2 separate regions of the Homo sapiens genome follow, and region 1 is linked to region 2. A link means that fine-mapping ties the variant in region 2 to the expression of a gene that starts in the linked region. Tissue or cell type: whole blood. Region 2 holds a variant in brackets; the other region holds the start of a gene. All regions are shown on one strand. Distances are from middle to middle.

Region 1 (12,789 bases), 21 kb after region 2:
TCAATATGCCTACAGTTCTTAAAGGAATAGCTAAGACAGCTACAGAATGAAAAAAAAAGAATTATGATTCACAAATTTATACTAGCACATTTGAAAATTTACATAAAATGGACAAACGTCTGAGAAAATGTAACTTATCAAAACTGACCTAAGAAAAAATAGACAACCTAGACAGACCTATGACTATTAAAGAAATTGAGTCCATAGTCAAAAATACTATGTAAAACAATAATACCTAGCAATCCCATTACTGGGTATACACCCAAAGGAAAATAGATTATTTTATTACACAGATACACGCACGTGTATGTTCACTGCAGTGCTATTCACAATAGCTAAGACACTGAATCAATTTAAATGCCCATCAGTGATAGACTGGATAAAGAAAATGTGGTACATATACCATGGAATACTATGCAGCCATAAAAAGGAATCCGATCATGTCCTTTGCAGGGACATGGATGGAGCCAGAAGCCATTATCCTCAGCAAACTAATGCAGGAACAGAAAACCAAATGCTGCATCTTCTCACTTACAAGTGGGAGCTGAATGATAGAACATATGAACACATTGTGGGGAACAACATACACTGGAGCCTGTCAGTGGATAGGGGGTGGGAGGAAGGAGAGCATCAGAAAGAATAGCTAATGGATGCTGGGCTTAATACCTAAGTGATGGGATGATCTGTGCAGCAAACCAGCATGGCACATGTTTACCTATGTAACAAACCTGCACATCCTGCACATGTACCCCAGAACTTAAAAGTTTGAAACTAAAAATAATAAAATGTTGGTGATCAGTTAAAAAATGTAAAACCAAAAAACAAAACAAAAGAAAGCACCAACAATAAACCAACTCTCCCTTCCCCCTTCACTCTCTCCAGGAATAGATGGCTTCCATGGTCAGTTCTACCAATCAATATAGGAAGAAATATTTCAATCTTTCACAAATACTTCCAGACCATTAAAAGAGAGAAAGAATATATAAGAAACACTACACTCTGCCTCAGACTATGAAGCCAAACTTTGATAGCAAAATCCCATAAGAACAGTAAAAGAACAATGATAGGCCAATTTCTCCCATAAATATAAATGAAAAAAAACTACATAAATTATTAATAAGCCAAATCCAAAAACATAAGGCTACTTCATTATGACCAAGTTGGATCAAGGATATCCCAGAAATGCTAGTCTTTCTGCTTTAATTATAAAATACAACAATACGAAGAGATGAAAGTAAGACCATATATATGCACACACCTATATTTGCAGAAACACACACCTGAAGGGTAACCAAAAAACTAATAAAAATGGTTATTGGCCAGGAACAGCCTGTAATCCCACAGCTGTAGGAGGTTGAGGCGGGAGGACTGCTTGAGGCTAGGAGTTCAAGACCAACTTGGGCAACATAGCAAGACACCCATCTCTACAAAATAAAAAATAAATAGTTAGCCAGGCATGGTGGCACACCTGTAGTCCTAGCAACTCAGGATGCTCAGGTGGGAGGATTGCTTAAGCCCAGGAATTTGAGATTACAGTGAGCTATGCTCCCACCACTGCATTCCAGCCTGATCAACAGAGTAAGATCCTGTTTCTAAGAAAAAACAAGTAGTTACCAACAGCTGGTAGAAGAATCAGGTGAAAAGGACACAGGCTTTTGAGGTATATGAATGTATCACTGATTTTAAAAATTAACTTTAATAAGTAAATCAATTAATGTAATTCATCATCATAAAAGTGAAAGAGAAAATCACATGATCATCCCAAAAGATGCAAAAAAAGCATTTGATATTAAATAACCAATCAAAATTCAGAAAAACTTAGCAAACCAGGACTAGAATTTTTTTAAACTGATAAAACATATCTATTTTCAAAAACCATAGAACATATCACTTATTTGTGCAATGTTATCAATTACTGCTAGACTAGGAACAAGGCCAGAATACCCACCAACCACATCCATTCAACATAATACTCGGGGTGCTATCCAATGCAGTAAGGCAAGAAAAAACAAATAACAGATATAAGGATTGAAAAGAAACAAACAAAAAGTATCTCTCTTCACACATAATACAATCAGGTATGTAGAATAAATCTACAGATAAATTATTAGGATATGTAAGATAATTCAGCAGATAGATCACAAAAAAACAATATATAAAAGTTAATCATATTCCTATATTCAATTAGAAAACAAAACTTAAAACCATTTATTTTTATTTTAGAGATAGGGTCTTGCCGTGTCGACCAGGCTGGAGGGAAATGGCAGGATCATAACTCACTGCAGCCTCAAACTCCTAGACTGAAGCAATCCTCCCACCTCAGCCTTCCATATAGCTGACAGGTGTGAGCCACTGTGCCTGGCTCATATTTTCTACAATATTATAAAATTATGAAGTATCTAGGAATAAATTTTACAATGATGTGAAAAATCTTTGAGGAAAAAAATATAAAACTTAACTGCGAAGCAATAAAAAAGACCTAAATTAATGAATCAGAAGACTTCATGTTGTAATGATATTAATTCTCCCTATATTGGCTTATAAATTTAATATCCAAATACACTCCTGCAGGCTTTTTAATACTATGATTCTAAGAAATGTAAAGTGCCAAAACTGGCCAACACACTCTTGTAGGACAAGATGGAAGGACCTGCTTTACCAGATATTAAGACATATTATAAAGGGATAACTGAGAAAACATGCTGTTCACACAGGGATATACTAACAGATAAACAGTAGAGAACAGAAGAACCAAGAAACACATTCACACATATTATGGGCACTTGATATATGACAGTGGGACAGCAAATCAGTGCACAAAGGAAGGGCTTTTCAATAAATACAGCAATAGCAATTGGCCATCTGTATGGAGAAAAAATGAAATTGCGCCCCTACTTCTACTACACAAAAATCAATACTAAGTAGAACAAGACACAAAAAGCACTAACCATAAGGAAAAGTATTGATAAGTTTTACCACATTAAAATGAAGAGCTTCTATTCAAGGCACAACTTCTTTAAAAAGAAAAACCACATAGAAGATATTTGCAACCCACATAGAAAGAACAACAAAAAAAATCAGAAACAAATATATAGCTGGGCACAGTGGCTAACACCTATAATCCCAACACTTTGGCAGGCAGATCACCTGAGGTCAGGAGTTCAAGACCAGCCTGGTCAACATGGCAAAAACATCTCTACTAAAAAAAAAATACAAAAATTAGCTAGGCATTGTGGCATGTGCCTGTAATCCCAGCTACTCAGATGGCTGAGGCAGGAGAATCGTTTGAACCTGGGAGGCGCAGGTTCCAGTGAGCTGAGATCTAGCCACTGTACTCCAGCCTGGGCAACAGAGCAAGACTCTATCTCAAAAAAAAAAAAAAAAAAAAAAAAAACAGATATATAAAAACTCATATAATGAGAAAAGACAACTCAATAGAAAAATGGGCAAAAGAACTGACTAGGTACTTCACAGAGGAAGTATAAAAGATCCTCAAAGTCATTAGTAATCAGAGGAATGAAAATTAAAACCACAATAAAATACCATTACATAGCCACAAGATTGACAAAAATGAAAAATACAGTAATAGCAAGTTTTGAAGATACAGAGCAACAGGAACTCTCATATACTCTTCATAGTGATTCAAACTGGTACAACCACTCTGGAAAATAGTTGGCAACATGTAGTATTACTGAAGATATGCATAGCCTCTGACACAGCAATTTCACTCCTGCGTTTATATTCCACTTAAATGTATGTTAAATGTACACCGAGACATGACCAAGAATATTTACACTGACATTGTTTGTAACAGCCCGACGCTCCCAAACCTGGGAACAAATCAAATGACCATCTATGACAGAATAGATAACTTGTGGCATATTCATAAAATGGAATTCGAAATAGTAATGAAAGTGAATAAACTACAGTCACTCATAGGATGACTCTCACAAACACAATGTTGAGAAAATGAAGCAAAACCCAGAAGAATGCATGATAAAAATATGACACCCATAGTGTCAAGTTCAAATAAGTTTAGGAATGCATACACATGGAGTAAAAGCATAAAGGTAAGCAAGGAAATGATCACAGAAGTCAAGATTATGCTTACTTATGCAGAAGAGAGATGGTTATAATTGGAAAAGGTATGGGGAAAAGGCTTCAATATTGCTAGTAATGTTCTATTTCTTAATCTGGATGGAGACTACCTCAGTACTTGTTTTATAATTATTTGTTAGACTGTAAGTTTTTACACACTTTCTGAATGTGCATTTTACAATTATAAATAGGCACTAAAAAAGGGAAAACCTAATACAGAGGATCTTCACTCTCAAGGTATTTGTTATCCCAATGCCAGCTATTCCCTATTCAGGGAAGCAAAAGTCATCATAATATGACAATGTTCACTAATACAGATTACTTAATGAACTGATCACTCCACTCAAAATTTCCCCCTCCCTCCCCGATTAACACCAGCAGTTTCTCTCAATGATAGTAAACATCCACAATATGAATAAAAGGTGCATCGTCTGCAAATTCATTCATTCAACAAATATTTCCGAAGTGTCCACTGTTCTGGGGGACCAGTAAGGTCCACGACAGACAAAGATCCAGACAGAGGACATGGGAACTTCCACTCCCACCCCAATTTGGCCTCCATCTTCTTACCCTCCTTTTCTACTAAGTTTCAAACACGAAGAATCTAAAATGAACTCGGGGCACATATGAAGTTACTATTAAAACTATTTTGTTAGTCTTTTCAATGCAGACGTATCACTTGCTTGGATTCATGTGGCAAAATCCTATTTCCCATGTTTTCAAGTAGGCAAAAAGATTGCCTTATCAAGAGCCCTAGCACAAAGCACCAGTTTCAACAATAGTGATGCTGTGGAAATTGGCCTAAGTGGGGTCAAAACTCCCAAGAAATGCTTTACCTGGGATCCACAGACCAGAAACTTGCAATTTTCTAGAAATTGTATACTAGATTTTGTGTGTATTTTCTCAGGTCAGAGTCCAGAACTTTCATCAGATTCTCAAAAGAGTTCAACCAAAAACGGTGAATAAGAACTGCTCCCAAAAAGTTGGAAAGACTAGCTTCTTAGGGACACAGTGAAAGCGAATGTGGTCACAGCCAGGCCACCTGAGTTGAAACCCAGGTGTCCTGACCCCTAGGTTTATGCTCTGAAGGCCCAATACTTACTCTTAATTCTTCAAAGGCTTCGTCTAGGGTGGAGAGTTGGTGGCCCTGGTGAGCCCCAATGACTGGACACAGGACACAGATGAGCTGCCTATCTTCCTGGCAATAGGTACTCAAATCAAGCCCATGGTCCGGACACTTCCTCTTGGCCACTCTCTCTGCTTCCATTTCTATTTCTGGGTCAAATTCACTTTCTGCCTCAGTTTCTCCCTCCGCCTCGGATTCCCCTTCTTCTTGGTTGTCTTCTTCGGCCTCGCTTTCTTGCTCATCCTCCATTTCTTCCTCGCTGTCTTCTTCACTCTCCTCATCGCTCTCATCCTCACTCTCTTCCTCTGTCTCGCTCTCTTCCTCTGACTCGCTCTCTTCCTCCGACTCACTCTCTTCCCCTGCCTCGCTTTCTATCTCCCTCTCCTGCTCCACCTTGACCTCCGCTTCTTCCTTCCCCGCCCCCTCTCCGTCAGCTGGCGGGGTCCAGGCCTGGGAGCCGTGGACGTATTCGGCCAGATGGTGACTGAGGAACTTCTGCCTGTGCGCCTCGGCATGGCGGCGGCAGTAGCAGAAGCCGCATTCTCGGCACACTTCCTCGGCCCCCGGAGCCTCGTCGGGCTCGCACTCGTCACACGTGCCGTCGTGAGGCAGTTCCTCGAAGGCCGCGCCCACTCCAGAGGCCATGTGGGTGCTGTGACGCGGCCAAGGCCTCGGGGCCCCGGGGCTCGCCGCCTTCCTTCCGCGCGGCCTCACTTCCTCCTCCCGCCCCGGGTCCCTTCCTAGGGAGTCGCCTCCCGCCTGGACCGCGCCGCGTCTCGAAGCGGGACCTGGGGCCGCGGCAGCCCCTGCCCGGGCGCAGCAGCAAAGACCCTTTCCGCCGGCTCGGCCTGCTCCGCTCTGTCCCTGCGCTTCCTCTGCCGCGCAAGGCACTTCCGGCGCGGCCACCCGGCGCCCCCGTCGGCCCCCGCGTCGCGCCGCCCGCTCAGCCTCCCGCTACCAGGGAGAGATCGCGGCAGCCGCCGGCCCCCGCGCCGCCCCGGTTCCACTTTCCCTTTCCCCGTCAGGAGGCCTCCTTTTACTTCCTGAGTCATTTAAAGTGGCAATGACCCTTTTCTGCTTTTCCCGCGGGGCTCAGCTCCTCCGCTCCAAATCTCAGCGTGCCTTGGAGGAGGAGGAGGGAGAAGGAGGATGGAGGAAGTCTCTTACTCTCTCCAGAAGCAGGAATTGGGCTCCACCTCCCCCATTCCCTCCCTGGAAGTGTCAACTTGAGTTTTCACGGCCACTAGGCTGGTGTCCCTGTGCATTTCAGTCTCTCTTGTGCCAATTTGTCGCCGCCCGTCACAGTCCCCAGTGTTCTGCAAGGTGCCCGGACAGTGTTGTTTACCAGACTGAACCTGACCTCTTGGGATTTCCTGAGTGCGGAAGGGCTATGTTTGTTCTAGGCTAGGGGAATTGGAGTTAGGATGAGCAAACAAATATTTTCGATCCAAAGCAATACTGTGCTTTGTCTATTTGCATTGCTACCTCCTAGGATCTCAGAATTTCTGGGGTGGTAACCTCTGTGCGGTTTTCTGAGAGCTGCCTTCGGTTGGGCAGAGACGTCAGGTGAAGTGAGGTGGGGAGAGGCAGTATTTGTCGAGTGACAGGTCCAGGTTGCAGTCATTTTCCTTTATGTAAGGTGTCCCTCTAGATTCCCACTGGGCTCTAAGAGAAAAGAAGGGAACTGTTGTTTATAAAGCAGTACTGTAGTGCCAAGAACCCGGCTACATCTTTTTGTGGCTCTTTAAAAGCCGGTTTTGGAAGATCCTCTGCCCGATGGTCCCCAAATCCTGGTGCCACTACCTATCAGTTTTATGACCATGGACAAGTTAATTCATCATTCTGTTTTCCGCTTTTTAAAAAAGATGTTAAGTGAAAAGAACGGTAAATATCTACCTCATGGGGTAGTTTTGTGGATTAAATGTAACGATGCCTGCACTGTAGAGTATTCACTAAGCTTTCATTATTATTTTTGGCACAAATTATATTTAGTGCTCACAATGCCCCTTTGAAGGAACATATTTTACACACACAGGGCATTTTCGGCTGGCTGCTGGTAATGTAGGCAAGTCTCCACCTCTACCCCATATCCATGTCTCTCCATTCACAGAAGAGTTTTTGTTTTGCACTGTATTTGGGAGAGGGAAAATTACGTTTTTATCTAGTCAAGGGAGAGGCTGAGGTGTATTAAGAAGGATGAAAGGGGATGGAATGGTGTCTGTTTTACATTGATTCCCTTAGATGATTTTGAGTTAGAATTTCCAGATGCTTTCCTCAAACATACCAGGGGATGAGGTGGGGTAAAAAAACCTTTTTAATAGTTTTTAATGTCTCCATGGATAATGTATGCCTAATCTTTGTGCAGCTTTTGTTAGATATTTATTTTTTAGAAACCTTTCTTTTTAACCTCAGAACAATTCTATACAATGTTGAAAAAAATCAGGTTTATTTTGTTCCAATTCCATACACATTTCTGTTTTCCCCCAGCTCATTTCTCTGGAAATTATTTCTGTGTCTGCTTTTGAAACATGAATTGAAGCACCATTCTGAAAAAAAAAATTCAACAAATGTCAACTCAAACATCAACGTTAATATACCTAATGAGAAGTGTGCCTTGCTTGGTTATTTCTACTCCTGTCCTCCCCCAGGCTTAAAAGGAAACAACTTAGCCTTTACAAACATAACGTTCTCACATTTAGAAAGTCTTTTATTCAATGAAAATAATTTTTATTTTTTTTATTTATTTTTTTTTTTGGTGACAGGGTCTCTCTCTGTTGCCCAGGCAGGAGTGCAGTGGTTCAATCACAGTTCACTGCAGCCTCAGCCTCTTGGGCTCAAGCAGTCCTCCCAAGTGCCTCCCAAGTAGCTAGGACCACAGGCGTGAGCCACTAAGCCCCACTACTTGTTTTGGTATTTTTTGTAGAGACGGGGTCTCACTATGTTGCCCAGACTGGTCTTGAACTCCTGGACTCAAGTGATCCTCCCACCTCAGGCTCCCAAAGTGCTGGGATTATAGGTGTGAGCCACAGGCCTGGCCTTTTTAATATCTTAAAAGGACATTGTTGTATCCAGGGTATTTGATGAGGGGAGGGGGAGTCATGTCATCATTATTGTTATTACTGTTTCTTCTTAATGTTATCTGACAGAAAGTTAAAATATAATACTGTGCAGTTCAGTATCTGACACTTTACAATTCTTCTTGAGCACTCTGTGGAGAAAGGGTCTTAGAGGCAGACAGATTAAACTTTTTTTTTTTAAGATGGAGTCTTGCTCTTTTGCCCAGGCTGGAGTGCGTTGGCACGATCTTGGCTCACTGCAACCTCTGCGTCCCGGGTTCAAGCGATTCTCCTGCCTCAGCCTCCCAAGTAGCTAGGATTACAGGTGTGTGCCACCATGCCCGGCTACCTTTAGTATTTTTAGTAGAGATGGGGTTTTGCCATGTTGCCCAGGTTGCTCTCGAACTCCTAGACTCAAGTGATCCACCAGCCTCGACCTCTCAAAGTTCTGGGATTACAGGTATGAACCACCACACCTGGCCAGATTAAACTATTAAAAAGGGACTCCATAAATTTCTGGTGACAAGGTGTGGCAGACTCAATGAGGCAGATCTCTGTACCCCTCTGCAGAGAAATCCGAACCATCTGATTCCCCAGGAATTAGTATCTTTGGGAGTGTCCACAAATAGCACCCTTGTTATATTAACCTATTGCTACATAGAAAATGACATCAAAATGTAGCAGCTTAAAACAATAAACATTTATTATCTTACATAGTTTCTGTGAGCAAGGACTCTGGGAGTGACTTAGCTGAGTGGTTCTGACTTAGGGTCTTTCAAGAGATTTTGGTAAAGATGTTGGCTGTGCTATCGTCACTTGAAGGCTTACCTACAAGCATAGAATTTGCTTCCAAGATGGTTCATTCACATGGCTGTTGGCAAAAGGCCTCACCACTTTCTATAGGGCTGCTGGAATGTCTTCAAGACAGGGCAGTTGAATTCTCACAAAGCAAGTGATCCAAGAGAGGGCAAGATGGAAGATGCAATGTCTTTTATAACCTAAGTTCAGAAGTCACACGCCATCATTTCGTACATAGCTTATTGGTTAGAGATTAGCTCTATTCAGTGTGGGCAGAAACTGCACAAGGGCTTGAAAACCAAGAGATGGGAATCTTTGGGGCCATCTTGGAGGTTGGCTGTCACAGTCTGCCCTTTGGCCACCAATGATTCACGTATCTCCCAAATGTAAAATACACTCACTTCTTCCCAAGGTCCCCAAAAGTCTCAACCCATTATATTATCAGTTCAAAGTCTGGAGTCCTGTCATCTAAATTGGGACCAGGTGTGGATGAAGCACTTTGGTGTAGTGTTTTAAGTGCAGATCCTCAAGTATAGTTCATTTGAATGCCTATGTCTCCCACACCCCAACATGCAATGGTGGGACAGGTTTAAGATAACTGGTACAGGCTGGGCGCAGTGGCTCATGCCTATAATCCTAGCACTTTGGGAGGCCGAGGCGGGCGGGTCATCTGAGATCAGGAGTTGGAGACCAGCCTGGCCAACATGGTGAAACCCCATCTCTACTAAAAAAATACAAAAATTAGCCAGGCGTGGTGGTGCATGCCTGTAATCCCAGCTACTCAGGAGGCTGAGGCAGGAGAATTGCTTGAACCCAGGAGGCGGAGGTTGCAGTGAGCTGAGATCACACCACTGCACTCCAGCCTGGGTGACAGAGCAATACTCTGTCTAAAATAAAAATAAAAAAGATTAGTGGTACAGACAGTCCTGCTCAAAAAGGAGGAAAGACAGGAGGCCTGAGAAGTCACTGGCTCATAGAATCCTTAAATCCAGGTAGACACATTTTGGAAGCTGTTTGATTAGGGTTCAAACCTACTCCTTGTTCAGGAATGACTCCCCATGGCTTTTTATTTCACCCATTGAGCTCTTGATTCCACTCTCTGAGTCATCTTTCCTTTTCCATTAAAAGTAGTTCATGTTTGCAGCTGTGTAATTGTATCAATTTGCTTACTGCAAGTAGAATTTAGGAGGTCCAAAGGCTACTTTTCATTTTGTACTCTGTCTGTGTGTCCATGCTGGCAGTGCTTCTGCCAAAGAATTGTTTTGAAAACTTTGTGAATCCTCTATAAATCGAATTGGGGCTCATACCATTGGACAAAAATTATACATACAGCTCTTTTCAAGATAAACCCTTCTTTACTCTGTAGAATCCCTCAGTGAAACCACTAAAGCACAACACTATAAACTTCCTCCAAGCTCTATGGTTTGTTTGAATGATTCTATGAATCACTGCTATAGATCCTTTTGAGGTCTGAACAAAGGATTTTATAGCCGCACTCTTACCTTCATCATTTGATGATGTTTTGCTGGGAATGTCCTGGAGTTTTTCCTTGCCTGGAAGCCATTTTTTCACAGTAGCATCATTTGCCATCTGGGGAAGCTGGGAATTTTCAAAACTTGCAAGTTCCGGATTTTTTTTTAAGTCCTTCCTTTAGATGATCTCTTTCTTTTCACATTTTGCTATAATCAGCAAGAAAACATCAGTTAGCACCTTCAACAGTCTACCATGAAATATCCTTAGCTAGAACACTCAGCTGGTTAGGCACAATTTCTACTTTGCACATTACTGCAGGTGACAATGTTACTAAACTGCTGCCACTACATAACAAGGACCCTTTTCCTCCAGTTTCCAAAAACATGTTCCTCATTTCCCTTTAAGTTCTCACCTACAAAGGCTCTAGTGTTTTTCGCTCTTGTTGCCCAGGCTGGAGTGCAATGGCATGATCTCGGCACACCGCAACCTCTGCCTCCAGGGTTCAAGTGATACTCATGCCTCAGCCTCCCGAGTAGCTGGGATTACAGGCATGAGCCACCACGCCCGGCTAATTTTGTATTTCTAGTAGGGATGGGGCCTCTCCATGTTGATCAGGCTGGTCTCGAACTCCCGACCTCAGGTGATGTGCCCGCCTCTGCCTCCCAAAGTGCTGGGATTACAGGTGTGAGCCACCGCATCCAGCAAAGACTCTAGTCTTTCACTAACATTGTTCTCAAAGTCCTTCCAGCTTCTACCCTCTGCTCAGTTCTAAAACCATTCTAACATTTTAGGGTTTTGTTATGGAAAAACTATTCTTTTTAATAAAATTTGTGTTAGTTGTCTATCGCTACATAATGTAGGAAGGGAGGGGAAACTTCACCCTCAGAAGGTTTGCTATAAAATCACCTGAACAAAGGCAGATTAATAGAAGAAAAGATGTATAAATTTATTTAATATAAGTTTTACATTACACAAGAGTCTTCAGAATGAAGACCCAAAAGTACAGGGGGAAACTGTCTATTTTTATACTTAGGGTCAATGAAGTATGAACAGCCATGTAGAAATATGATTGAAGAAAAAAGGGTATGATCTAATGCTAATGTCAGGGGTGTTTGAACCAGAGCAACTCCATCTTGAATAGGGGCTAGGTAAAATGAGGCTGAGACCTACTGCGCTACATTCCTAGATGGTTAGGCATTTTAAGTCATAGGGTGAGATAGAGGGTGAGCACAAGATACAGGTCATAAAGACCTTGCTGATAAAACAGATGACAGTAAAGAAGCTGGACAAAACCCGCCAAAACCAAGATGGCAATGAGAGTGACTTCTGGAGATCCTCACTGCTACACTCCCACCAGCACCATGACAGTTTATAAATGCCAGGGCAACGTCAGGAAGTTACCCTATATGGTCTAAAAAGGGTAGGCATGAATAGTCCACCCCTTGTTTAGCATATAATCAAGAAATAACCATAAAAGTGGGCAGCCGACAGCCGTCTGCTCTGTCTATGGAGTAGCCATTCTTTTATTCCTTTACTTTCTTAATAAACTTGCTTTCACATTACGGACTCACCCTGAATTCCTTCTTGGGCGAGATCCAAGAACCCTCTTTTGGGGTCTAGATTGGGGCCCCTTTCTGATAACAATAACAGACTGAGTGGGGAGACAGCAGGGTCTGCCTGTCTAGATTCCTCTTGGCCTTTCTGTGCAACATTCCTTCCTTCTAGGTACAGGGCAGGACTTTCTCTGGAATCGGGGTCTTATGACCTACAATCAAGCAAAGTAAGTCAGATCATTTCTTTATGGCCAGTTTTTATGCAGAAATGTGGGGGAAAGTTAGAGTAATACTTTTAAGTTTTATGACTGGCTTTGGGGAAAAGAGGTTCTGGTGTCTACGACTCACCTTACAAAAGTAGCCGGGTGTGGTGGCACATGCCTGTAATCCCAGCTACTCGGGAGGCTGAGGCAGGAGAATGGCTTGAACCTGGGAGGCGGAGCTTGCGGTGAGCCGGCGATCACGCCACAGCACTCCAGCCTGGGCAACAAGAGCGAAGCTCCCTCTCAAAAAAAAAAAAAGAGGAATTCTAGTTTCTTTGGCTAGCCTCAGGGGAGAATGAGGGGCTAGAGACAGGAAAGTGGGAGAAAGTCAGAGAGAAACTTATGCTTCTGAAGCCTTCATTTTGGGGTATCATTTTCTGAGCCCAAACAATAACAAATTACCCCAAAACTTTGAGTCATCT
Region 2 (12,789 bases):
TACATTTTAAAATTTCCCTAAAGCCTACCATAAATGTACTCAATCTACAGATAAGAATCCTGCTTGTGCAATAGGTGTTTCAGAAAAGTTTGGCTGGAGAAAAAAAAGTTTGCAAACTAAACCAAGTCAAACACATTAGGACAGCGTATTATGTAAAAGACCATTTCCTACTAATCGTTTTGACAAACTAAAGATTGTTTGTTATTAAAAGTAATCTTCTTCCACGATATAGAGGGTTCTAGATGCCCAGAGGTATGTACCCTTTAAAACAGGGCTCACCACAGCAACATCCATGCACAAAACTTCATTCGGTCTTGTACCCTATTTCTTAACCATCACTGGCTCTGATTCCTCTCCTAAGGCTCACCCATAATGGCTGGTTGTTCCTGATTTTCCTCTGGTTTTAGAACTCAGCCTACACCTCAACCATGGCAGGGAGCTTTGATCATCCTCCTAAATCCCGACCAGGATCCCTTTCCCTCTTTTTGGCTTTGCTAATTCTCTGTTGGAAGTGACAGTGTAAAGCAGTCCCGTCCTTTTAGCCTAAGCTGACTTCCTAACCCACCTCTTTTTCCCCTCCCTACTCCTTTCCTACCTCTGCTCAACTTGTTTCATAAGCCTAGATTTTTATCTACCTTTTTTCCAAAGTTGAAATCACCTGGACTTATTTCTAGGGGCTCTTCTACTTGTTCAAAGAAGTGAAAAAAAATCATTAGCAAACATAGAGGAAAACAGCTAAGGTACAGCACAGAGGTTCTCAAAGTGTGGTACTTGAAACAGCAACATCAGCATCACCTGATAATTTCATAGAAATGAACATTGTCTAGCCACCCCAGGCCAATTGAATAAAAAACTCTGGAGGTGGGCACAGCACTCTATATTTTAATACGTCTTCTGGGTGATTTTCATGTACACTGAAGTTTAAGAACCTCTGGGTCTGGAAGAAAAGAAGATGTCTGACAAATGTTTTGAATAAAATGAGGCATCTCATTAAACAGAATCAAGTCTATATTTTTGACACAGAAGAATATCTAAGATATTCCACATAAAGGAAAAAGCAATTGTAAAACCATGGGTATAATTTTGTAAAAGAATTTTGAAAAGGTACTACATAGAAAAATGTCTAGAAGGTTACATACTAAACTGTTAACAGTGGCTAACTTAGGGGAGATTTTACTTTTTCTTTATGAATATCTGTATTTTTAAATCTATAAGTATGTATTATTTTATAATTTTAAAAAAATGATTAATTTAGACATCTTCTACTGCTCTCTAGCAAAACTCAAGAGGTAAAAATTAACTCATTCCCCAATAGGCTTCAGTGTCTGGACTAATCAAGCTTTGTGATGCTTTAGGGAATTCTAGAGGAAGTGAGGCAGAGATAGTGCTCAGTCCTCCATGACTCAATCAGTGCTTCTATGTAAAGCCTCTGTGCCCAGGAAATGACAGGTCACAAAGCCTAAGAGATTTCTGCCCTTCTTAAATAGGCCAACTCAAAAAGGGGATGGTGGGGCTCTGTGGGAAAACAGAACAGACAAAAACTTAAGGGTTGTCTTGGAAGATGCCAATTTATTTCTAGGAAAATCTTCTTTGTGCAGAAATTATATATTTAAGTGGCCTGTTTTTTACCCCCATTCCTGACCTGGCAGTCATTCTGCAATTACGTTCACCCTTCTTCAAGCTGGCTCCAAGTATATACAGCATATGGTTGTGGTAGACTAAAAAGGGGCTTGAAAATAAAATAGGTTGGTAGTAAATGATCCAGGGCAAAATAAAAAGAACGTAAAAAAGAGGTGCAGGTATACACACACACCCAAGATCAAGTCGGGTCCTTACAAATATCCTTTACCTTATGATGCATCAAGAGAAAACCCTGACACTTCCAGGGATTCCTCTCATGCAACCGCTCAAACCTTTCACTTTCTGGCAAGCTTTCCATCAGAAGCACTACATGCATTCATAAAGGATCCCAAAGCACTTTACCTGTATTATAGTCATACACAGAGAACACTCAGTGTGATTTGTACACATCCGCTCCCTCTTCACTGCACTGCTAATTATAAGTTTGGCGGAATCAGAATATGGTTGTCTCCTGCAGAACAGGAGTTGCTCCAGAAACCAGAGAAACTTGGTAAGAAAAGCTTTCAGTAACTTTTAATAAGTGGTTCATCCTAGCTAAAGGAAAAACTTTTATCAGGGGTCCTCCTACTTTGAGCTAGGAAAGTTGATAAAGGTTACTCTAATTTTTTCTATCTACCAACCTAACTCTCTACTTCTGGAACCCTGACTACACCAGAAGACAAGAGATCTTACCAATGTCCCCGATATTTTCATTGCCATATGAAGAGAAATTTATTCTTGTGGCTGCAGCCACCTTTTGAAGAGCCCACCAGTCTATGGCTCTGCCACATATTGTGTTTCAATTTAGAAAACTGCAGCACAATGTGATCATGTGGCAGAAAGGAGATAAAATCCAGTGCTTGGTTTGCATGACATAAGATAAAGAGTATAGGCACTGGAGTCAGAGTTTGAATTCCACATCTATATTACATTAGATTTGGGCAGATGATTCTACCTTTCTAAACCTCAGTGTTCTTATCAATAAAGTAGGAAGAAAATGCTACTTTACAGTGTTGTTAAATAATTAAAAGTATTTAAGGGGAGAGCAGGAATGAGAAGTTAGCATTTAATGGGTACCGAATTTCAGTTTGGGATAGTAAAAAAGCTCTAGAGATGGACAGTGATGATGGCTGCACAACAAAGTGTGGCCAGGTGTGGTGGCTCACGCCCATAATCCCAGCACTTTGGGAGACTGAGGCGGGCAGATCACTTGAGGTCAGGAGTTCGAAACCAGCCTGGCCAACATGGTGAAACTCTGTCGCTAGTAAAAACACAAAAAGTTAGCTGGGTGTGGTGGCATGTGCCTGTAGTCTCAGCCACTCAGGCGGCTGAGGCAGGAGAATCACTTGAACCTGGGAGGGAGAGGTTGCACTGAGCCGAGATCATGCCACTGCACTCCAACCTGGGCATCAGAGCGAGATTCCGTCTCAAAAAAACAAAAAACAAAAACAAACAAACAAACAAAAAACCAAAGTGAATGTACTTAATGCCATTGAACTGTACACTCAAAAATGGTTAAAATTTTGTATGTATATTTTAGTACAATCATGTAAGAGTCCTAGCAAAGTGCCTGACTCTCAGTAGATACTCAAGAAATGCTAGTCCCATTCCTCTTAAAAAAAAAAAAAACAAAAACAAAAACAAAAAGAACCTACAGTAAAATAAAATCATGCGCCTTTCCCTATTTAATTGTGAGAAACTTTGATTCTAAGGCAAAGCCAGCTGGCCCCAATACCAGGTAGTGCCACAGTAAGTGTCTGGGTAGGAAGGAGAAGGAAGTCTGTTCAGTTCCGTTTACCTCCACCCCGTTATGGTGTCTCCCAGAATATCAATCCTCTAGACCCTAACATATTGAAATAAAAAAAAAAAGCCGGGACACTTAAACCAGTTTCCAAACCAGACTTCAGGTCATGAGGAAAAAAGTATTCTGAGTGGCAGCTGGCTCCTGGAAGCAGTGGAGAGATAAGACGCTAGTGCTGAACACCAACTAGATGAGTCTGGATCCCATGCCAGTCCCTGGCATTAAGATGATCTGTATTTCTCAGCTGGTGCGGTGGCTCACACCTGTAGTCCCAGCACTTTGGGAGGACGAGGAGGGCGGATCACGAGGTCAGGAGTTCGAGACCAGCCTGACCAACATGGTGAAACCCCGTCTCTACTAAAAATACAAAAATTAGCAGGGCATGGTGGCGCAGGCCTGTAATCCCAGCTACTCAGGAGGCTGAGGCAGGAGAATGGCTTGGACCCGGCAGGCGGAGGCTGTAGTGAGCCAAGATTGCGCCACTGCACTCCAGCCTGGGCAACAGAGCGAGACTCTGTCTCAAAAAAAAAAAGATGATCTGTATTTCTCTCAGACGCCTTTGGCTGCATCTAATGGACACAGAGGACCAAAGATTCAAAGACCCCTGGTAAAGGAGGATTAAAAATGCACCTGTCTGCAGTTCAGGGAAAACAATGAATGATTATGTGTTGTAAGTCATAAAATAGAGAAGGAGAAAAATAGATGACTTATCTCTAGGCATATCAGGACACTGTTTCTGATGGGCAGGCTTAATTAAATCTTAATGCAATATTCAGAGAGATGATCATCAACACCTCACAATTTTAGCTCAAGGAGAATGAAATGCTTGGGGTACCAACACCCAATCAATTCCAAACAATACTTACTTTAGGGTCTGAGCTCTTGAACTTCAACCTTTCCACCAATTCGATCATAGCGGCCTTCAGTCCACCTGAGTCTTTGCTCTAGAAGAAAGAAAAGTGAGGGGTCACTAGACAGCATTTTGTTGCTCTCTCAAACACAAACAGCATTTTGGAAGACAATGAAATAGAAAGCAATTTTTTCTTAACAGCCAAGAGAGCTAAACAACAAAGGAGAGGTGCATTGCCCCTCTTTCCCTTCTCTATGGACAAAGAGTGTCAGGACATAAATTGCCCAGTGACTGGCACAACTATATGGAATGAAAATTAAATACAATTTGTATAGGCTGACTCACTGCTTCATCTCAGGCTCAACTGTGCTGGTGTTCACTGAAGCTCTACAAAAGACAGTTCCATACAAGATGTCTATTTTACAGACTGGTAATTTTTATTTTGAACCTTTATGCATCAGATATAGAAGTATGCAATATTAAATATACTTATAAAAATTAAAACAAAGAAAATAGTCTGAAATTTAATTATGAATGGAACTGTAGTGTGCTGATTAAGAACACAGGTTTTTTAACTGGGTGTGGTAGCTTGCACCTGTAATTTCAGCTACTCAGGAGGCTGAGGCAGGAGCATTGCTTGAGGCCAGGAGTTCAACACCAAAAAAACCCATAAAACTCACAGGTTTTTGAGTCAGACATATACAGTTCCAATTTTGGATTTGCCATTAACTAGTTGATTAATTTCAGGCAAATTACTAAATGTCTCAAAACCTTCTCCCCCTTCTATAAAATAGTGATAATAAACTGGGCTATTTTGGGGCCTAACTGAAAGTGTTTTAAAAGATATTAGCACAGTATGTGGCACACAGTGAGTGCTCAAAAATTTCATATGCTATTACTATTATTACAGTATAATGATTTAGAATAGCACAGTACAATAAAAGACTAATGTGAGTCCCAAATGCAAGCGTATGTATATAATTTTATAACTGCCACAATTAAAAAGTAAAATTGATTTTGATGTATTTTACTTAACTCAGTATATTCAAAATATCATTACAACATGCAATTTCAACATGAGATTTTTTTTTATGCTAGGTCTTTGAAATCTAGTATTTCACAATTACAGCCCAATCAATTTAAACCAGCCACATTACAAGTGCTCCAAAGCCACATGTGACTAGTGACTACTATATTGGTCAGTACAGATTTAGAGCACAGACTAGAGCCCTAGTGCCATTAGTCACACACTAGCTGTGTGACCTTAGGCAAGTTACTTACCCTCTCTCTGTCTCAATTTCTTTATCTGTAAAATAGAGCCAATAACTATCTATTTCATAGGACTGCAGTAAGATTAAATTAGTTAATGTATGTCAAGGTACTCAGAACAGAGCCTGGCACATGGTAAATAAAAAAG[G/T]AAGTATGAAACAGTTTTATTACTATCTGTCTCCCTCGTGATATTTTCAGTTCCTTAAGGGTAAGAACTGTATTTTTTTGTATCCCTGTATCTCTTATGCCCAGCATCTAGATGTTGTAAAAAGTCTGAACAAATCAATGAATGAACATATAACCTTAAGACATGAATGCCATAATAATAATACATTATATTATATATAGGACAATCTAAAATCACAGGAATTCATTTATTTTCTTATCTCAACAACTCTATCAGATAGGTAGGAACATTCATTTCACCAATGAGGGAAAGGAAGCAAAAAGAGGTAAACTCACTGTCATTTCTATGGGGTAGGGACAACAAAGAAGTACAAGAATAAACAGATACTGCAAATATCTCTTACTCAAAATTGGCCTCTGGATCTGTGATAACATATCTTCCAAATTTACAGAACTAATTTCAATTCCTCCAAAATAGGAAATACCTAATAAGATTCCACTATATAAATTAAAATATACTAAAGGGTCAATTTTCCCCCCTCTGACCTCTCTTGCCTCTCAAGTCTACACAGTAAAAATCAGACACAACATGACTACAACCAATATCTACTTTAGATGTGTTCTCCAAACACAGCTTAAATCACATTTCCATGTTAGCAAAGGTTCTAAATTTTAATAAGTTCTATTTTTTAAAATGATGGTTTACAACTCCCCTATATCCTCCACTAATTTTAGTCTTTAATCTCTGTGGTCTCATAGCAGACAGTTGACAAAAGGAACTTAGAGGTCATATACCAGGAAGCAGGTGAGACCTGAAGTGCCTAAAAAAGGGTTAAGTTGCCAGAAACAATCATGCTTTTACGAGATGATCAGACAATAAAGCCTGTCTGGTGATATCATTCCTCTAACCTGCTTCTCATTGGCTGAACAAGCAGGTCACTTGTCCCTGGAAAGCTCTCTTCCCCCACATCCCAGCTGCCAGCGCCCATTTTAAGCTCTTCGGCAAGAGCTCTGATATATTATGACTTTCCCCCTGGCTCTAGAGAACAGAAAGGAATGCACCAAACTGTGTCTTAAAACCTTCAGAAAAGAATAAAACGACAACGAAGGAATCCCTAAGAAGCAGACAGCCTGTCTGCAAGCAGATGTGCCTCGTGTGGATGAATAAGGGAACCCTTAGCCTTCTTTCATAAAAATTCAGTGTGTCAGCAGAATCCTTCCTCCTTTTCACAAAGCATCAGCAGCATCGCCTAACCAGGGAAGAGACAGAGGAGAGGCAACTTAAGAGAGCCTCCCTTCAGGAAACTCACCTGTTCCACCTCCCCACCCCACTCTCTGTGAATTATTCACCAAGATTAACTGGGCTCTATGATGAGCCTGCTATACTCAGTCTCTAAATCAGTGGTGAAGAAAACCTTTCCCAAAGGCTTTTTTAAAAATCTATAAAATAAGCAGTTGGTCAGAAGGCAGAGGCTCCTCGGGGCAGACCTGACCCTGACAGCTGCAGAGCTGGGGCAAGAGTCCAAATGGAGGACTCTGGCCCCAATCCACTCCCACCACTTTCCCCACATTCCAGTCCCTTCCTGCACCCCAAGGGGCCTTGTGCACAGGTGTTCAAGCTAGCAGGTCCAAGCTGAGAATACCCCTCTTGGTCACCCATGATACACATGTGGGACCTAGGGATACATGTATCAGAAACTGGTCCATCTTCAGGCAGACGGACTCAAGGAGAGGCTCTGCAGGCCCTGGAAGCAAGCTCAGGACATTTTACCAGGTAATTCTTGGGTAGCTAGGTACTTGAAGAGTGGTACGGAACGGGACAGGCATGGCTACAGGAGGGGTCTTCAAAAGCATGGGACATAGCCCAGCTACTCGGGAGGCTGAGGCAGGAGAATCGCCTGAACCTGGGAGGCAGAGGCTACAGTGAGCCAAGATCACTCCACTGCACTCCAGCCTGGGTGACAGAGCGAGACTGCATTTCAAAAAAAAAAAAAAAAAAAAAAAAGTATGGGACATAGGTCAGGGGCATGGGGTTGTTTGGGTCTAAGGGTGGTGGTATCTGAGTCTGAGTATCCCCAAACCATAGAATAGTACCATGTTTTGGTTAATTATTTGTTTGCTGAGGACAGCCATTAGTCAAAAGATAGCCAGACAGGAGATTATATCCTCATTTGTTCCATAGTTAGGGAACCAGTGAACAGAAAAGATAGTGGAACAGAACAGCTGCCTCTGAAACCTGAGTTCTAATTGAGAAGTGAACCAGGATAGTAAGAAAAGACAGCCTAATTCTAACCTTGTAGACATTTGGTTCCATTTTTAGAAATGATTGTCAATCCTTGGGGCACATAACATGACTAGCAAAGTAGTAGGATTCCCCTGCTATCTGTACTTCTCCACCTCCATCCCACCCAATGCATTCCAAGAACACAGGAGTTCAATGTGAGCATATCTTGTTTATGTACCTTGTTCCTCCCCTAAGAAGGTGTAGAATAAAAAGAGATAAGTGCTACATTGTGACACCCACCACTCAGAATTTGATTAATCTGTAGAAGCATAGGATGCTTCACAGAAGCCACCTCCTAGGGATGAGTCATAATAAAACCAAAGGACAAAATGCTGTACATGTGAAGGTATTCTTTAGTCTCCAAAGCACTTTCATATGCTCTTTCATTGGCATCTCACTGAAAAGCAGTGTATTCTCACTTTACAGCTGAAAAAAATGGCTGGTGAAAATCAAATGAACCCAAAGCTCAGAGCGCTTATACTCTTTCACTGGCATTTCACAGTAATACAATAACTAAAAGGTAGTGTATTCTCCTTCACAATGGACAAAAATGGCATTGTGGATGTCAAACAATGTCCCCAAAATCACAGAGCTGGTCAGTGACAAAACCAAGATCAGAAAGATCTAAATGAAAAAGATTTATAACATATACATGGTATCAAGAATACAGAAAAAACACATAAGGGATTTCTATACATCAGTAAGAAAAGGCCAAATAAACCCAACAGAAATCTCCAAAAAAAAATGAACAAACGAGACCCTGTCTTAAAAAAAATAGAAATGTGAAATGCAAACACATCAAAACATGCAAAAGATGCTCAGACTCACTCATGATTAAAATATAATTTCTTACCCATCAGCCTGAAATAAATTTTAATCTCATAACAGCAAGTGTTAGGCCCTGGGGAAATTGGGGACTTCCATATGTTGTTGATGGATATATAAAATAACTGCCACTCTGAAATCACATGCCTACCAATCCACTTCTCCTTTCCTCTTGAGGAAGACTAGCACCTGTGTCAAGGATGCATGTACAAAAGTATTTATTGCAGCACTGTTTGTAATACTAAAAATCTGTAAACACCCCAAGGATTCATAAATATTGGGTGGCTAAATAAACTGTGGAATTAACACACTGTGGAATACGACATAGCAAATAAAAAGAATGAGGTAGGTTGTATGTACCTGGATACAATGCATGACATATTGTTGAATTTAAAAAAAAAAACAAAACCTTGCAAAATGGTACATGTAACAGTTTTTTAAAAAATTATTACTTTCTATGAGTGACATAGGTATGTAGAATATTAGAAAAGCAATTATTGCTGGGACTGGTACTTAGGATAGAAGGATTTTAGAGTTAAATATATTCCTATTAATTGCATAATTAAGATTTAGCATACTAAAAAACAAACAAACAAAAAAAGGCAGGCAGTAAGGCAGGGAGAGAAGCAGAAGTTGACCAAGAGGGCCAAGGTCTCCTGCTTACAGTGCTTCTTCCCATGAATTTGCCTAAATGTAAATACTGGGGCCTTTTCCTTTGACAATGCAAACATATGGACCAGCAGATTCAAGAGAAGGTTCTTTACTTGATATTCATGTATGGATTTCAGGGGGTCTGAAATCCTCAAAACGATATAAAATTTGGGCTGTACATGACATTAGCTTTTCTCACATCCTCAAAAACAATTAACATTCCAAATGTAAAGAGCATTGCACAAAGAGAAAGGAGACCTAGGTTTTACTACTAGCACTGCCAGCAACTGCTTGTGTGAGCTTGGAAAAGTCATTTTACATCCCTGGGTTTCTGTTTTTCCATCTGTAAATGAGGAAGATGGACCAGATCAAAAGCTATATATCCACAGCCTGAGGCCTACAGAACTATTTTCTTTGGCTTTTAGAGTGTTGTCCCACACATCCACTAAGAGTTTTAAGTTAGTTGCTAGCATTTAAAAATGAGGACATATGACATAAAAATAAAGATTTCTAGCTTCTTTTGTAAATCCAAAGGGTATGACTGTAATGGGCTCCCATTCCCATATAGCAGAAATTGGCTGAAGCTGAGTAGCAACTACTCACTTTAGGCAAAGCAACCTCTCTCAAGTTTGCCAGTTACCTTGGCTTGCTTCTCTTCTTTACATTACCTTTCTGGTAGATATCTGAAGTTGCTATCCCTGGAAGCAATTCTAAATGTTTTCTACCTCTAATGTTCCTTGTGTTTGAACACCATGAAAATTGGGGTGCCTTTCTTCAAAGGAGTACATATTACCTGATACATTCAGATCCATCCACCCCAAAACACAGAAATAACATTTCATGCTAATGGAAACATGCCTTAAAAATGGGTAAAGGGTAGAAGCAAAAGTAGAATATGGCAGGTAGCAGTGGCATCAGAATAGGAAGAAGAATTCCTTGACAAGTGGTCTCTGCACTTTCATGGAAGTCAGTCTAGTCTAATGCCAATAACCAGCTAGGCACCCAAAAGAAAAGTCACGTGTCAGCAAAAATGTAAATATAAGCCACATAAATATCCTAAACTGGCTCCTGAATATTGAATTCTATTATTACAAAGAATCAATCAGAAGATGTTGAATTCAGAAAGAATACTAGCTATCTGTATTGGGGTGTTTTCCTCCCTATTCCATTGGCTTGTGTTGATATCATTCTTCTAAAAAAAAAAAAAAAATCAATCCAACTTAGTCATTTTACCAGAAGGTCTTGTCTGGGAGAAATTGTGGAAAAGGATCAGAAGATGGAATACAGAAGTCCTCCTTGGTCAGGCGCAGTGACTCATACCTGTAATCCCAGCACTTTGGGAGGCCAAAGTGGGTGGATCATTTGAGGCCAGGAGTTTGAGACCAGCCTGGCCAAGATGGAGAAACCCTATCTCTACTAAAAATACAAAAATAAGCCGGGCATGGCCTGTATTCCCAGCTACCTGGGTAGCTGAGACATGAGAATCACCTGAACCCAGGAGGTGGAGGTTGCAGTGGGCGGAGATCAACTGCCATCTATCCTGAGCAACAGAGTGAGACACTGTCTAAGAGAATGGGGAGGGGAGGGAGCGGGGAGAGGGGAGAGGGAGGGGAGAGGAAGTCCTCCTAAGGAATCAAATCAGAAAGCAAAGTTTTGTCAAAAGGAAATGAAATTAAATTTTAGTATCACCATCCCATGTACGAAAATTTTTACCACCTCCTTTATATTACTTCATTTTCTAACTCCAAACCCACTCCTACACTAGGCCATCACTTTTAGTTGTCAGACTCAAAGTCATTCTTGGGTCTGAAAAAAAATCCATCAGCAAGTCTTTTTAGGCCGAACTCTAAAATATATGCCATATCCAGTTGGCATGTATTCTTCACTATCGTATTGTCCACTATTCCCAACCTGGTACAAGCAGCAATACCGCTCCCACTCTTGCTACCCAACAGCCCATTCTCCACATAGGAACCAAAGAGAAGTTTTAAGAATATAAACCAGATCATTTACTCCCTTGCTTAAACAGTCTATGACTACTTAGAATAAAACCCAAAATCCTTACCACAGCCTACTTGGTAATCTGACCTCATCTACTAGTCAACCCCTACCCCACCACTACTGATTATACTCCAGCCATTCATTTTATCCCCTTAGTAAACTTGTTCTATCTCAGGGCTTTTACACTTGCTGTTCCCTTCAGTTGAACCACTATGTCCCTAGAGCTTCTCATCACTGGCTCTAACTACACCCAGGTCACTAGTTCAAAAAGTCCTCAGATCCTTAAAAAGCTTCCCTCTCATTCCCACATCCCAGTCACTCCCTATCTCCTTCCCCAGTTTGTTTATTCACAGTACTTATCATTATTTAAAATATCACTTATCATTTAACTTCCTTACTGTCTGTTTTGCTCAAAGATTATAAATTCCATGACTTAGAGTTGCTTCTTGTTGGTTCCCTACTGGCCAAAATACTCCACCTGGCAAATTTTAAGCCTTCAATAAATATTTGTTGAATGAATAAATAGACCAAAAGAAAAGAAATGCCACTAACTTCGAATAATATATAAAATTATCTTAAGAAATACTATACCTCAAAGAATTGTGGTAAACATTAAATGAAAGAATATGCAGAAAGTTTAGAGAAGCAGTACAAGCTAAGTTCTCAATAAATGTTAGTTATAATTTCTGTTGTTATTATTAATTAAATAACAATACATTGAGTGACTACTAAGTATCAGGTATTGACCTAGAGAAGTGCTGAATAGAACAAAATAAAAAAAATATTTTACTAATTAAAATTATATATAATATATAGAAAGAAGACCAAAGAGAAGGGGAAAATAGTTTTAGGATATTCAGAAAGTATTCATCTATTAAATGCCTTCATATAGAAAATAAACATAAGGATAATGTGTCAGTACAACTTAGATTAAATATGAGAGGGAGTAATCAAATTTGTAGAGGCAAAATGGAATGGTGGAAAGAATATGTACTTTGTCAGGCCTGGATTCAAATCCCAGTCCTTACGCTTGCTAGCTAAGTAACTGTCAGCAAAACTTAACCTCTTTTGAGTTTCCTCATACATAAAATGGAAAACATAACAACATAGCTAATTGTGGAATTTTATTAAGGATCAAATGAAACAATATATGAAAAGGACCTGGCCACAAACCACTCAATAAATGACAGCTATTTGTTATTTTTCTCATATCTCTGGAAATTCAAACAAAATTCAGCAACAGACAAAATTCAACAACAGTCTCAAAACAACAGTCTCAAAATTCAAAAACAGACAAAAACAGTCTCAAAATTCAACAACAGACAAAGGTTTCTAGACTCTTGGTTTTATAACCTCGGCCAA

The links. PIP is the estimated chance that this variant, and not a neighbour inherited with it, causes the effect.
Region 1: it holds the start of TRIM44, and the variant in region 2 is fine-mapped to the expression of TRIM44 in whole blood (INTERVAL, PIP above 0.99).

The regions. Positions count from the first base shown.
Region 1 is chr11:35,656,192-35,668,980 of GRCh38, reverse strand. TRIM44 (tripartite motif containing 44) reads right to left here and starts at 6,206. Exons shown (of 5, transcript NM_017583.6): 1 at 5,201-6,206. The coding sequence starts at 5,869. RefSeq lists enhancers at 5,518-6,018, 6,230-6,549 and a silencer at 5,810-6,189.
Region 2 is chr11:35,676,835-35,689,623 of GRCh38, reverse strand. TRIM44 (tripartite motif containing 44) reads right to left here. Exons shown (of 5, transcript NM_017583.6): 2 at 4,288-4,365. Among named protein-coding and RNA genes, the nearest start is that of TRIM44, 20 kb to the right of the region's middle. The variant G/T (reference allele first, on the strand shown) is at 5,689.